2 separate regions of the Homo sapiens genome follow, and region 1 is linked to region 2. A link means that fine-mapping ties the variant in region 2 to the expression of a gene that starts in the linked region. Tissue or cell type: cerebellar hemisphere. Region 2 holds a variant in brackets; the other region holds the start of a gene. All regions are shown on one strand. Distances are between the middles of the regions.

Region 1 (8,184 bases), 61 kb after region 2:
TTAATACAAAGTCCTTTTATATCATTTGAATTTTAAAATACAGATGTAATGCTTTTGACACTTAAAAAAGTATCTCAATAGATTTGCAAAAATAAAGACATAAAGAGAATGTGTTAATCCCACCCTACAATCTCCATGCCTTCTACTCTCCAATTTATGTTGCACTAGTTGAGGGTTTATCCTCCTCAACACATTACCCTGTCCTGTTAATCTCGCCCTACAAACTTTTAATGGCTACCCATTCCCACAGATAAAATGACATATGTAAGTATTCAGTCAGCCAATATGTATCAAACAACCAGTATGAGTTATATATCCTATTCGTAATAGGGACATTGTAGTGAACAAAATCAACGTGGCCCCTGCCCCCAGGGGAAACAATCAGAGTAGGGAACAATTACATACAATGAAGGAAATATATGCTCTGATGACAGGGCACAGACTGGCTGGCAGCACCCAGAGCACCAACAAATCTACCCCTCCCAGTCCAGACTCCTTAGCACAGCATGCAAAACCTACAGGATCTATCCCAAACCCACCTTTCCTCCCCCATTATTTCCTCCTCCCCCAAATAATTGCACCCCCATTATTTCCTCCTCCTCCCAGCTCCAGCTACAGGGAACTTACGTGCCATTTCTCAATGAGCCATGTACTTTCACTCATCCACACTTTAGGCTTTTCCCCAGAGCCCAGAATGCTCTTCTATCCTTTCTTTCAAAATTCTAATTATCCTCAAGGCTCAACTCAAATGTCACTTCTTCAGCAAAACCAGCCCCAACCCCCAAGTCAAAATTAATCATCCCCTTCCTTGTTTCCCACACTTGGTTTCCATGTCAGGTATTTCATTCAGTCCTGTGGTTAGCTATTTTATTCTCTGTCTACTCACACCCACCAGCCGCTCAGGGAGATGCTGTGTCTTTGTCATTTGTCTGGGACTCCCAGTATTGAACACACAGTTGCACACAGAGTGGCCACTCAAGAAATGCCACATTGAGTGGATGGGCAAGACAGGTCAGACATAGGCAATGGATGTGAAACCTGCTCTATGTGGCTGGGTGGGTTCTGGTGTGATCATGGTAGGTAGGCTTAGGAAGGCTTCATGGAGAAAGTGAGTTTCAAGGGAAAAAGGAAATATTAATACGCAGGCAAGAGGTGAGAAGTAGAAGGGGCCAGAAGGTTTAATATAGTCTACATAAAGGAGAGCAAACAGGTTAGTTGGAACGAAGTGTCTGAGCCAGAGAAGACCAGAGGGGAGGGACACACAAGGGGCAACATCTCCTTGGAGGAAACTCATAAGGACACAGTGAGAACAGGTGGGAGCCCCAAAAATGATCATTTAGGAAAAGGATGAGCTTAAAAGGGAGGCTGGAGGAAATAATCAACCAGGAAGACACCAACTGTGTGGGAAACAATCAGGACCTGGGCTAAGACAGTAGCCGTAGAAACAGGAAGGAAAGAAAGAAGCTGGAGTCTGTGGTACGGGGAGAGCCAAGAATTGAGAGACTACGTGAATATGGAGGTCAAAAAGAGCAGCGATACCACGATTATACCCAGGTTACACCCCAGGAGGAAAGATGATCTTGTTTATCAACATATTACATTTCAGGGATCAGTACAGTGCCAGAGCAGTGTAACACAGCGAGACCTTCCCAGAGGTCAGGCTGAAGCCACACCGAGTGAGATTCTGTGACAGCAGAGTTATCAGGAGGGTCATCAATGGTTCAGAGAACTGTTAGGTGAAAAGGTACTGGCTGGTGACACCACAGAAATTCCCTGTGTAATTCATAGGAGGCATCCAGCCAGGACAGGATATGCTGGAGTACAATCAAGATTTCCCCAAGCTGTGCTTTCCCCACTTCTATTTTGTTTTTGTCAGTCTCTCTTTGCCCCCTCCCCTCTTCTCCCTTCATTATTACTCAAGGGCATTGTTTTCAAAGTTCTACCTCATCCCACCCTCATAACTGGTACCCAGGTTGTTCAGAGAACTGCACAGCTCTAGGGGGAGTTATTCACACAGACTACAAAGTGAACAGCAGCTCCCGAAGTTGTACAGTGCACCATCTGTGCAAACCTAGGCCATGGCCCTGCTTGACCCAGACACATAAAGTCAATTAATGTGTGTGGACTATAACAGCAGTGCGCCACTAACATACAACTTACAAGGGTCCCAGAGTGAAAAGTAAAGATTAAAAGCACTACCACCGGGTGTGGTGGAGCATGCCTGTAATTCCAGCACTTCAGGAGACTGAGGTGGGAGAATGACTTGAGCCCAGGAGTTTGAGGCTTCAGTGAGCTGTGGTTGTGCCATTGCACTCCAGACTGGGTGAAAGACTGAGGCTTTGTTTCAAAAATAAAAATAAAGCACTAGGATCAGGGACTATAGAAAAGATGCCATAAAACTAAGTGGAAGATCTGGAAGCTTTCTGCACATGGGCTGAAGCTGAAGCAATGTGGCTGGACGAGCTCTCTGAGGGAGTCAGTTCAGAAAATCCCTTCAAGGTGAAGGAAGAAAACACAGCAGCCAGCAAGGCTGGTTCATCAGCAGCAGGAGTCATGGGGGTTACAGCAGTGTGGGCCCCGGTGTCCCCAGCAGGGGAGTAGCTATAGAAGGCCTCCTCTGGAACCCTCTGACCATAAGTGCAGAGTAATCATTTGCCCTGTGTGCAGCTGGGACCTGAATGGCACGGACACCGCACATCATGCGCTCTGTGAAAGACTCAGAGCCGCCTTCTCTAGGGGCTTGGAAGAGAACCCCAGGCCAGGTCACAGGAATCATCTTGTCCTGGTTGACACTGACAACAAGGATCCAAGAATATCAAAACATTTAAGAGTCGGCCCTGGGGTACCATGGTGGGCACTTAATAAACATATTTCCGTGGCTGGCTAGGATCACCATGTGGATCTACGTGAAGATGGTGTCTGTGTATGGAGTGAATGGAAAATGGAGAGGGAAAAAACCCACAAAAGATTCCTTGGGTGGGGGGAGGGCGCTGGGCCAAAACCTCACGGGGCACCCAGGGTTTCCGGAGGGTGGAAGACGAGGGGATAGTAAGGGAGGGAAAGTAACAGGTAGAAAAAGTTGGAGAAGCCAGGCTTTTAGGTCTTTGTGTATAAATACGCAGCTAGGCAGCTTCAAGAAAAGCTAAAAGAAAAGACTGAGGCAGAAGATCTAGCCACGACGAAAATGACGGCAGGACTCGCCCGCCGATTTCCATTGTAACGCTCCGGGCCACCCTGTGACCTTCGTGGAAGGAAGTTGGAGGATTCTCTCGCTTCCCTGGAAAGGCAACTCCGCGCGGGTTGGGTGAAGAGCGACCCGGCCGGCGGCGGCTATGGCGGGGCATATCAAAGGCTCACATTTCCGCTCTCGAGCCGAGGACCCGGGCCGGGACCGCAGCACCTTCCGGGCCGGGAGTTCAAGGTGAGCCGGGCTCCCGGCGGCCAACAGGTAGGGAGACCTGGGGGAAAGACGGCCCCGGGCCACTCCCCCCGGCACATGTTGGGGGCGAGGCTCGGCCTGGCGGAGCGGCCACTTGCACCCCGCGCGCGGGGCCCGAGCGGATTCGCGCCAGGCTCCGGGCGGCCCCGCGGCCGCTCCCCGCCGGGCCGAACAACCCGCGCACCCCGGCCGGGTTTCCCGGGAGCAGCCCGGGCACCCTCGGCGCCCCAGGCCGCGCGCTGCAGCCGCGCCCCGCCGAGCCCTCCAGGGCCTCGCCAGTCCCCGTGTGCCCCGCTGAGCCCCGCGCACACTCACCCAACGACAGGAGCGCCAGCAGCAGCGGCCTCGAGGCCAGGCGCCCCATGCTCGCCCGGCGGGAGCGACTCTCCCCCTCCTCCTCCTTCCCCGCCGCCTCTCCTCCTCCTCCTCTTCCAGCTCCGGCTGCTCCAGAGTCGGCGCTCCTCCGCCTGGGCCGCGCGCCTGCTCCGCTCTCCTCGCGAGCCGATAAATCCCAGCGCTGGGGCGTACGTGCGCCCCTGGCTCCGCTCGCTCCCTCCCGCCTCCTTCCCTCCCTCCTCCAGCCGGCCGGGCCCGGGAGCCGGCCCCGCCGATCCGAGTGTGCAGCCCCGACCGCTTCCCGAAAGCAGAAGGGAAGAACCGCAGCGCCCGCCCGCGCCTCCCATCCGGCGCTTTGCCAGCAACAAACACAAACTTTCCCAAGCCCCTCCCCGCTCCAGGTAACGGAGGAAGAGCCGGGGCCACCCGCTTAAAGGCGAGGAGGCGTCGGAGCCCACCCTGCCATCCCCTCTGGGCCCCCACCCCACGAGAAACTTTCCTCCGACCTTTAAAAGTTGGCCTGGGAAAGACTCGTCTGGAAATCCCATCGCTTTAGCCCTATCCCGGGACACCCCGCGTTCCATCACGCTGGAGTCACCCACGCGTGTCTAGTCTATCCTCAGCCAACTCCCCGCTCGTTCGGCCTCTCGTCCTGAGCTAAACACCCCACCAACCAGCCGCTTGGCCTATGCCAAAAATTATGCAGATAGGAGCGAAGGAGCTGAAAGGACTTTTAAAGGCCACGGATTCCAACCTCTACCATACAGAGGCCTTAAGTGTTTCGGTGAGGTGCCCAAGGATTCACAGGGAAGGGGCAAAATCAGAACCCCGCTCTCCTGACTCTGCCCACTCCCCGGTGGCTAGGGTGGGCCTGTCTCCTTCCTTACCCAGCTCCCTCCCTCTCCTCGGCGCCTGTGGCACTGATTAGAACAGCACCCCACAAAGACACCCATTTAAAAAACAAACAAAACCCAAGTGTATTAATAGCTATAGTACTTCATATAGAATGTACTCTTAAGACTTAATATTTATTGCTCTAAGTGGACACCACTGATTGCCAATAAAGACTCATTTTTCCCCCTACAATAGAGTTTTGTGCTTTTGATTTGAATACAAAAGGCCCGACTTGGTTGGGAGAAATGGAGCATTCCTTGCTTGAAACTTAGCAAGCATGATTCAAACACGCAAGGAGCAGCACTGGTGCCCACTGCCCGTCACTGGGCTTTCATTCACATGCAAAACGGATCGCAGATGCTTATGCGGAAACTGCCCACACTGGGGAAGAACACTGCTTTTACTCTCATGCATCCGTCTTTCAACCAACAAATGTTTCTTATTTCCCCACTATCAAATGTGTGATTAGCCAGGTATCTTTGGAAAGAGACTTAAAAATTCATTCCTGGTGGTGCAACGTTATTGTACTTAATGCCACTGAATGGTACACTTAGAAATGTTTAAAATTGCCAGGCCTGGTAACTGGTACTTGTAATGCTAGCTACTCAGAAGGCTGAGGTTGGGGGGGCAGGGGGAGGCGGGGGGCAGGGATGGTGTTGCTTGAGGCCAGGAGTTTTTATTTGTTTTGTCTTCTTTCTTTCTTTCATTTTTGAGACAGGGTCTCAAAATGAGGATCTGTCACCCAGGCCGGAGTGCAGTGGTGCGATCAGGGATCACTGCTGCCTTGACCTCCCAGGCTCAAGCAATCCTCCCACCTCCACCTCTCAAGTAGCTGGAACCACAGATGTGTGCCACCACACTCTCGCTAATTGTTTTTATTTTTTGTAGACACTGGAGTCTCCCTATGTTGGCCAGGCGGGTCTCGAGCTCCTGGGCTCAAGCGATTCTCCCGCCTCGGCCTCCCCAAAGACTGGGATTACAGGTCTGAGCCACTGGGCTGGCACTTTTTCTTCTTTTTCTTTTTTCTTTCTTTTTTTTTTTTATTTGAGGCTAGAAGTTTGAGACCACTCGGGCAACATTGTGAGACACCGTCTCTAAAAAAAAATTTTTAAGGTTAAAATGGTAAATTTTGTGCTATGTACATTTTACACAATAATTTTTTTAAAATTTATTTCTGCCGCCAAGCCTTTCCTGGTTCTGTTCATACACACTGTAATTCCTTTCTCTTCCCCATCCCAATTCTTCCCTAGAATCTCGCAGGGAAGTTTCCCAATTTCATTCAATCAACCTTGAATTCAAGCCTAATGTTAGGCCTTGGAAGGTAGTGGAGCTTCAGAGAAATGTGAGGCCTGGCACCTTCAGAAGCTCAGATTTCAGCTCATCCTCCATCTTTCCTTTTCTTAACCACCCAGAACGCTTAATGTTTGAACCACACATTGTGGCACTTGGTCACATTCAGTTTAGCAAAATGTATACACTACCCCCATCTCTGTCTAATAATGCATGGGCCTAAGAGGCTGTCACATTTTCACCTTGTATCCCACCTTATGGCAGAGTAGATGTTTTAAAAATTCTTTTGTTTAATAAACAATGTGTGTCAGGGACTGTGCCTAGCACATGGTAGGTCCCAATGTATATTTATAGAGTGAATTAATGGCAGACACTGGGCTAGATCCTGGGGGTACAGGGATGAAGCAGACAGTTCTTGCCCTTGAGGAGTCGACATTTTGTGCATTGTGATTGCATATGCAAGGTAGAGTTGTGACACCACAAGGGAGCGGCCAGTCCAGGAGGAGGCTGTCAGAGAAAGCTTCACAGAGGGGATGACTATGCAACGAGTCTTGAAAAATTGGTAGGTCTTTAGCTGTGGAGTGTAAGGATAAGCTTACAATAGATGTTGTGTATTTAATATGATAGAGATTCTTCTCACCTCACCCACCCCCAGGTATTATTAAATTAATGGTGTATCTTACAATCATGGAAATAACAGTGGTTAACCATTGAAATGATGAGAATAAATAAAATTGTCTAGGTAAGGCAGGTAGAATGAGGACTGAAGTGGGTAGCCTGCTGGTGGCTGGCAGTTAAATGTCATGGGAGTTAACCAAAGAGCCACTTTTGTAGCAAAAAATAAGCATAAATTAATAAGTCTAGACTGTTGGTTATAACCACCACACCCTTTGCACCTTCCTGACTACCAATGGATAAAGGAAGAAACACAGCAGACTGGCACAATTTGTTAATTCATGACTCTGGAATCTGATGATGCTTTTACTATGAAAGATATTTATTTACCAGAGTGAGTAACCTTCTATACAGGTAAGGCTTTTGCCCCAACCAGTTGTTCTCCTATCTTAGTCTATAGGCTTGCCTGGGGCAGGAAGACTCACTCTCCAGCAATTCTAATTGATTCACGCCCACCCCCAAGGAGAGTACCGACATGGGTTTCTTTTCTCCAATCATAGTGCCCCCAAGGGGCACTGGTCACAGCAGTCCGACATTATGGTCTTTTGGTCACACATGTCTTTCTGCAGGTGATACCCCTAAAACCTCACAAGAGTCCTCATACTGTTACGCCAAACAAGTTTTCCCTGCTGAGATCAGGCAAAAACATCATCATGTTATTTAACTTTGTGAATGAAAATGTTAAAAGGTTCCCAGTGAATGAAATTGCTGATTGTTCTAAGACTCACCTAGACTTGGAGTTGTTGGCCCTGCCACCTCTGGCAGCCTGTACACGCACACAGTCTCCAAATGACCCTGACCCCTACCTACTTCAGCAGGGGCTCAGGGGAAGGAGTATATTCCATGGCACCGTTTCATTCCACTAATCATTTTCACTCACAGTCTTCCTTGTTCTGTGTCCAGATGTATATTTTCCCAGTTAAAGTTAAACAGAGATTACTAAACAAAAAGAAATTTAGGATTATATTATAGAATTAGAAAATGAAATTAAAAGTTAGAAAGGGAGGGGTGGGAAGAGGAGGCCTTTATTTCCCCACGAGTGAGAGTCCTGCAATACTGGTGAGATTAGTGGGGAAGCTGTAGAATGCTCATGTGACAAGTTTGAAAACAGCAAGGGACCTCATCTGTTTGGTATGGGCTAAGCAGGGTCCTGCCTGAGGGCTGGTCCTGCTCGTCACCACCCAACTATCAATTCTCCCCATCTTTTCTTCAGCCCTAAAAGACTGAAGTGGGACATGGTGGAGAAAGTGTTCTTAAATGACTTAGAACTGTTCCAGATTCCACCTCCACCAGGCCAAAAGTGCCTCCCTGGGAAGCTACCCCACATAGCATCACGCCTGCAGGAACACTGGGGTGGAGAAGTGTGAGGAGAAAATAAGGAATTGGATGGAGGTGAGCCTTTGGCAATAAAAGCTCTCCCCAAGACTGAGGCTATTTCCTATGTTACGAGCAGACAGGGCCCTTGCCCTGGAGGGGCTTATCATCTAATTTAATGCATGAAAAACCTGGAATACAGTGAAGGACGGGGAGGAGATGGAAACCACAAGAGC
Region 2 (8,184 bases):
TGCAGAGGTTTCTGCTGCCTTTTGTTTGGCTATGCCCTGCCCCCAGAGTTGGAGTCTACAGAGGCAGGCAGGCCTCCTTGAGCTGCAGTGGGCTCCACCCAGTTCGAGCTTCCCTGCAGCTCTGTTTACCTACTTAAGCCTCAGCAATGGCGGGTGCCCCTCCCCCAGCCTCGCTGCCACCTTGCAGTTCGATCTCAGACTGCCGTGCTAGCAATGAGCGAGGCTCTGTGGGCATGGGACCCTCCGAGCCAGGTGCAGGATATAATCTCCTGGTGTGCCGTTTGCTAAGACCATAGGAAAAGCGCAGTATTAGGGTGGGAGTGACCCAATTTTCCAGGTGCTGTCTGTCACAGCTTCCCTTGGCTAGGAAAGGGAATTCCCTAACCCCTTGCGCTTCCCGGGTGAGTTGATGCCTTGCCCTGCTTCGGCTCACGCTCGGTGGGCTGTACCTACTGTCCTGCACCCACTGCCCAACAAGCCCCAGTGAGATGAACCCGATACCTCAGTTGGAAATGCAGAAATCACCCGTCTTCTGCATCGCTCACGCTGGGAGCTGTAGACTGGAGCTGTTCCTATTTGGCCATCTTGGAACTGCCCCCTGACTTTGGGCATTTTGTTCACTCATCTATTCCCAGTATCTAGAGCAGCACTTGTATACCAAAGGAACTCAATAAATATCTGAATGAATAAATGAATGAAAGACACAAGAGAAGGAGCTAGACTCTGCCAGTGGGTTTCAAATCAGCCTGAAATAGGCCTGGAAGTGACCCCACTGACTGTCTTGACAGCTCAGATTCAAATGTCTGGATGTATTTCCAAACCATCTAGCAGATAGATGCATCCACTCAACATGTATTTATTAAACACTTAATGAGTACAAAGTACTGGGCCAGGCAGTTAGGGGATAAATAGATAATCCTATCCCTAACCCACATCTGTGTAACACAGTGCGGATGATATGAGAAACATTTACAGAAAGCAACATGGTGAAGGGGTGAGGATGGAGTGAGGTACCTGGATCCAGTGCTGCTCCCTCGACAGTGATGATACAGAACAATTTGATCAGATCTCCCCGAATTACTGATGGTGTGTCTGAATGCACAGAAGCATTAAATATAGGACCTGGAAAAAAAGTAATGCCAGCCTCATTATTCTCTTTCATGCTTTTGTCAAATTCCATTCTTTGCACTCTAAGGGGCATCAAAATGTGGTTCTCTTCCCTGGGAACTGGTCTAGAAACTCACAAAATAGGTGTTCCAAGGTTGCCTCTCTTCTATTCAGAGAGACATGGGCATTAGGCACATCCAAGTGAGCTTCATCTTAAGATTACAACCAAAATAGAACTCTTCTGAAAGAATTACTTTTGCTCTGGCTTTTCTTTCTGGTGGCCACAGTGACCTCATTCGAAAGCTACCCTCCACCCTGGAACAGCCTGGGCTGGTTCTAGTTCAACATGGTTCACTTCTAGGCCAGGGTGGCTTAGGGATCAGAGGAACAGGGACTGAAGCAAGAAAGCTTTTGGTTCCAGTGGAGTGAGTGGTCTCACTGCACTGTGCTGGGTGCTGGGGAAAGGGGCCCTGTTACCAAGAGGCTGAAATCTGGTAAGAAGACAGACATGTCAACAATGATATTTCTATGAGGTGTGGTGGTAGCACTCAAGGCACAGCTTCAGCATGCCAGGGAAAATGGAGGCAGCCTGGATATGCCTTTTTCCTTTTTTTTTTTTTTTTTTTGAGATTGAGTCTTGCTCTGTCACGCAGGCTGGAGTGCAGTAGTGTGATCTCGGCTCACTGCAACCTCCACTTCCTGGATTCAAGTGATTCTCCTGCTTCAGCCTCCTGGGTAGCTGGGATTACAGGCACATGCCACTACGCCCCGCAAATTTTTGTATTTTTAGTAGAGACAGGGTTTCACCATGTTGGCCAGCCTGGTCTCGAACCCCTGACCTCAAGTGATCTGCCCGCCTCCCAAAGTGCTGAGATTACAGGTGGATATGCCTTTAAGAGACTACTGAGGTTGGGGAGGCTATGTGTTGTGGGAGAGTTGGGAGTATATGGAAACTTTCAGTACTTTTTGCTGAAAAGCTGGGAACCTAAAACTGCTCTAAAAAATAAAGTCTGGGCTGGATGCAGTAACTCATGCCTGTAATCCCAGCTCTTTGGGAGGCCGAGGCAGGTAGGTCACTTGAGCCCAGGTGTTCAAGACTAACCTGGGGAACATGGCAAAATCCCGCCTCTACAAAAATTAGCTGAGCACGGTGGTGCACACCTGTAGTCCCAGCTACTCAGGTGACTGAGGTAGGAGGAAGATTGCTTGAGCCTGGGAAGTTGGGGCTACAGTGAGTCAAGATCGTGCCACTGTCTCAATAAATAAATAAATAAATAAAATTAAAATAAAGTCTGGTTAAAAAACAAAACAAAAAAACCCTACCCAAACTGGGTTTGTCTTACATGCCTCCCTGAAAACGCTGCAGGCAGAATTATTATTTTTAACTCACTTATGAATTCCTCTTAGGTGAGAACATTCCATAGCTTTCAGCTTAGCTAATCCTAAGAGTTCAATGTTTACTTTATCCCAACTCCTAAAATCTAGGAACAAGGCAAACCTAAAAGAAATTCACAGAACATCAATGCTATGGGACTCCCCTTGGGTTTCCTGGGAAGCAACGATTGAAGGCCCTAGGTGCTGACTGTAAAACTCATTAGAAGTTAAGAATATAGGTATTACTACTTCTTGTTCAGATTGCCAGAAAGAAACAAGTATCCTAAAGTATCTTTTTTAAACTTGCAGAAGAAATGGCCATGACAGAGGGAGTAACATGATGAAAGGGCTATATTTTCATTTTGACATGATGACTAATAAGATGAATTCATCAGATTGCTTTCCTAACCAAGTATATAAATATTTTTTGTTTTCCTGGGAGAAAGGTAAAGGATGGTTATAGAATATTGAACCCTAGTGGGGGTTAGGCAGCTCTGGGTAGAAACTGCTGAGAGTTCTGATTATTCAGGGAACAGCAGGGGCGTACGTAACTCTAAGGGGATAAAGAATTGACAGAATGGCTGTTCCAGGAAATGGGGAAAGGGATGAAAGCAAAGACAAGGAAGCCTGACCTACTTCTGGACATCATCCCCTTCAATTAACTCAGCTCTCAGCCCTGGCTCCCTCGGGCCTTATACCCTGGACTTGCTCTGCCTGGAGCAGTGAGGTGGGGCAGGATTAGGCCAAACTGCCTGGAGTTGGCTCTGTGTGGTGACTGGGGACACTTATGCCATAGGCGGCCA[C/T]CTGTCAGTGAGTACAGGTTAGCAGCAACCATGGTGAGCAAGGGCGGGCAGGGGGGTCACATTTTTCTCAGATTAGAAATTTCATGGTAATACACAGAACTACACTGAGGGGCTTTTCTAGTGCTCAGGCCCCTTCTAAGAGAACATAAAATGACAAAACATTAAGAAATTCTCATGGTTTTATCTCATGGATTATCTATTTAATTTGAAGCAGCAAAGAAGACTTACTTAATTCGAACAAATTTCACTTTTTCTTTATGTTTCCAAAGAAAACCCAAATACCTCCTAGGTCACGTTACAGTTCTCACTTCCCCTACTGGACGTGGGAATCAACAGAGCATTTGTGCTGCAGCTCACAAGGCAGACAAGGACTGGGGAAAAGGCCTGCATTGTGGTGAGCTATTCACAGGAGTGGATTTCCTCCTAATGAAATCAGCAGCTCACTGTTAATATGGGTCATTATCCCAGGCTTAGAAATATTTTCATTATGGTCAATTTCTGTGGTAATTCTGTTTTTGTGAGGGGATTTGTCTGGTTAACTTCACAGATGACAGGGTATGGTACAGAGAGTTTAAATGAACAACCGGAGTCACTAGGGGTCCCCCAATTCCTAGTCTGCAGAGAGTATAGGAACTACTTAACTTTTAAATACAAACATTGACATAAACCATGTTCCAACCTTGGCCTCTAAAAAAAGCTGTTAGTGGCAGTTTTTTTAATGAAAGCAAAAGTTACAGACCATCTGCATGTCCATCAATAGGGTAATGGCTAAGCAAATTCAAGTATGTAAAGTCATTAAACGTGGTATTAATGTTTACCTAGAATTGGTGACAATATGGAAAGTGCTGATCTTATAACACTAAAGGGAGAAAAGCAGGTCCTAAAATTGTATGTACAGCTTGATCTCAAAGTCATGAAGAAAATATACAAGAAAAACATTCTAGGAAGATGAACAACACAAGTTAACAGTCTCTGGTAGGATGATGGATAAGTCTCTTTCCCTTCTTTCTACATTACTATATTTTCAAATTTTCTATATATTACGAAGAAAAAAATTTATTATTCTTCTTTTAAAAGGCCAAAGCCTACACTATCATATTTAAATACCATTTTCCTCTTGACACTTTGAATCAGTAAAACCCAGCACTCAGTAGGGCCCCTTGGTTTTTAATACCAAAAAGCAGGTGCCCTGAAATCAGGGGACAGGAAGGTGAACATGGGAAGAACCCCTTTGTTGCGTGTCTTAAGGTATGTCACGGATTTTTAGGAAGCAAAGGCTGTTCAGTTTCAAATCAATGTTTGCTGGTGGCTATTCAGGGCTATAGTATTGTTCTGGGTGCTGAATTTGATGGCAGCTTCTCCTAATTAAAATGTGAACTGGCCATGACAACTCTGTGGATTAAATAAAATAAAACCTTAGGCAATCTATTCAACCTGGAAGCTACAGCGGTTTTATCTGTTATGCTGAGATTTAAAGAACTGAGGAATAGACTCAACATCCATTCCTCACCCAGAAATAGATACAAAATACTCTGTGTCTCCCCTTTTCCATATAAGAGTTTAAAAGAAAGATCAAATAACAAATGTAAAACAAGATGGAACAGATTCCTACAGACAGCAAAACAAATACACAAATAAAGGACAAAAACCACATAATAATCTCATCTCAACAGACAGAGAAAAAGCATCTGACCACATTCAACACCTTTCCATGACAAAAATACTCAACAAACTAGGAATGAAAAAAAAACTAAGAATGGAAGGAAACACACTAGGAGTGGAAGGAAACTTCCTCAATCTGATAAAGGGCATCTATGAAAATCCCACAGTGAACATGATAGTTAAAGGTGAATGAGACTGAACGCTTTCCCCCTATGATCAGAAACAAGACAAGAATGTCCACTTGTGCTACTTCCATTCAACACTGTATTGGAGGTTCTGGCTGGGCAATTACTCGAGAAAAAGAAATAGAAGATATTCAGCTTGGAAGAGAGAAGTAAAACTAGTTCTATTCACAGATGACATAATCTTGTATTTTAAAAATTGTAACAAGTCCCCCAAATTTAGAATTAATTAGAATTAATAAACAAGTTCAGCAAGGTCACAGGATACAAGATCAATATACAAAACCCAGTTGTACTTCTATGAAACTGCAATGAATAAACAAGCCAAAAAGTAAATTCAGAAAGCAATTCTATTTACAATAGCATCAAAAAGAATAAAATACTTACGATAAATTTAACAAAAGAAACAAGATCTGTACACTGAAAACTACGAAACACCATGGAAAAAATTTAAATACCTAAATAAATGGAAAGATAGCCCATGTTTATGAACTGAAAAACAGTATTGTTAAATGGCAATGCTTTCCAAATTGATCTACAGAGTTAACACAATCCCCATCAAAGTCCCAGATGCCTGGACTGTAGAAATTAACAGGCGGATCCTAAAAGTCACATGGATGTACCAGGCATCCAAAATAGTCAAAACAATCTTGAAAAAGAACAAAATTGGAAATCTCCAACTTCTTGATTTCAAAACTAACTACAAAGCTACAGTAATCAAACCATGTGATATTGGTATAAGAAGAGAAATCTAGATCACTGAAATAGAATTGACAGTCTAGAAATAAACCCTACATTTATGATTAAATTATTTTTGACAGGGGTGCCAAAACAAGTCAATGGAGAAATAATACACTTTTCAATAAATGGTGCTAGGACAACTGGCTATCTCCATGCAACATAATAAAGTTGGATTCCTTCTTCTTAACCACATACAAAAATTAACATGAATCATAGCCTAAAATGTAAGACCTAAAACTATAAAACTCTTAGAAGAAAACATAGGTGTAAATCCTCACAGCCTTAGATTAGGCAGTGATTTCTTAGACATAGCAAAAACACAAGCAACAAAAGGAAAAAAAAAAAAAACAGATAAACTGGACTTCATCAAAATTTAAAAATTTGATGTTTCAAGAGACATCATTAAGAAAGTGAAAGACAACACACAGAATGCGAGAAGATACTTTCAAATAATAATGTTTACGGCAGCACTATTCATAATAGCCAAAAAGTAGAGATAGTCTAAACGTCCATCAACAGATGAACAGATAAACAAATGTGGCATATCCATACAATGAAATATTATTCAGCCATGAAAAGGAATGAAGTACTGATACCTGCTACAACATGAATGGACCTTGAAAACATTATGCTAAGTGAAAAAAAGCAAGTCACAAAAGTCCACATATAATATGATTCAATTCATATGAAACACCCAGAAGAGGCAAATCTATAGAGACAGAAAGTAAATTAGTGGTTGCCAGGGGCAAGGGCATGGGGGCATGGGAATGATTACTAATGAGAGTGGAGTTTCTTCTTGAGGTGATTAAAATGTTCTGGAATTAGATAGTAGTGATAGTTGCACAACTCTGTGAATATACTAGAAACCACTAAATTGTACACTCTATATATAGTAAATTTTATAGTATGTGAGTTATATCTCAATAAAGCTGCTATTAAAAACAAACAGATACACAATAAAGGAGGCCTATGCTTTCTCCAAATCTAAGGGCTTAAATCAATATTTACCCTTTAATTTAAAGGTCAAGAGATCTTAGAAGATTATTTCACTATGGTATATATTATATACCATAAAAGGCTATAATAATAGAAAATAATATTAATAGAAAAACTTTATTAGAGTCTAGCTTACCTTTAATATAAATGCTAATCATTTAATTCAACAAATATCTTGCATTCATTGTATGATTCAATTGACACCTGAATTTTTACAGATAAGTATTAATTTATACATTCAGAAATTTCTAACTAAAACCCAGGAACCCAGGGCAGAGTTAGTGAAAACACTTAGTATTAAACTCACAAATGATAATCCTTTGCATTCATATTCTAAATAAGATTGGGGTTTAAATACTTTTAAATCATCTTCCTACTGAAACACACACATACACAGACAGAGGATGTTAAAGATCTTCCACTTTGGCAAGTCATTTAACACCTTGGGAGGCTCAATTCCCTCCTCTCTTTCTTTATACTCCACTATGTTCCCTAAAGTATTTGAAGTAGCTGAGCTTCAGCTCATTTTCTTAAAATGAAAGCAGAAATGAAAACATACATTCATCAAAAATTTGTACATGAATGTCCACAGCAGCATTATTTGTAACAGTCAAGAACTGGAAACACCCAAATGTCCATCAACTGATGAATGGATAAACACAATGTGGGATATCCATACGATGGAATCTTATTCAGTCATAAAAATGAACAAAGCACTGATACATGCTACAATATGGATGACCCTTGAAAACATTTTGCTCCAAAAAAGAAGCCAGATAGAAAGGCCACATATTATATTCCATTTATGTGAAATGTCCATAATAGGCAAAATGTATAGAGACAGAAAGTAGATCATGGTTGCTGCAGAATGGGAGGTGGGGAATGGAGTGTGAATGGAGGGTATTGGCTAAGGGGTCCAGGTTTCTTTTGGGGTCATGAAAATGTTCTAAAACTGGTCGTGGTGATGATCACACAACTTTGTGAATATATGAAAAGCCACTGAATTACACACTTTAAACAGGTACATTGTATGGCATATGAATTGCATCTTAACAAAGCTGTTTTAAAAAATGAGGGCATCTGATCAAAACCCTAGGGTCTCTTCTAGCTCCACCTATGATTCAACAGGGCTCACTGCTCACCTGAGGTTTGGAAGTCTATCTCAATAGGATTGGAGAGACTGGTTGCTGCTTCTCGCCAAAGGCTGCCCCTGACAGGAGACCAGGCTGTCACCATGCAGCGGTACAGCCCTGCGTCTGAGACCTGAGTCTGGTACATTCGATAGCGGAACTCATCCTCCTGCACTTTTTCTAAAACAA

Evidence for each region. PIP is the estimated chance that this variant, and not a neighbour inherited with it, causes the effect.
Region 1: it holds the start of PTGFRN, and the variant in region 2 is fine-mapped to the expression of PTGFRN in cerebellar hemisphere (GTEx, PIP 0.97).

What each region holds. Positions count from the first base shown.
Region 1 is chr1:116,905,823-116,914,006 of GRCh38, reverse strand. It overlaps PTGFRN (prostaglandin F2 receptor inhibitor), which reads right to left and starts at 4,091. Exons shown (of 9, transcript NM_020440.4): 1 at 3,755-4,091. The coding sequence starts at 3,803.
Region 2 is chr1:116,967,154-116,975,337 of GRCh38, reverse strand. PTGFRN (prostaglandin F2 receptor inhibitor) reads right to left here. Exons shown (of 9, transcript NM_020440.4): 6 at 8,008-8,184; 7 at 1,015-1,122. Among named protein-coding and RNA genes, the nearest start is that of CD101, 31 kb to the left of the region's middle. The variant C/T (reference allele first, on the strand shown) is at 3,285.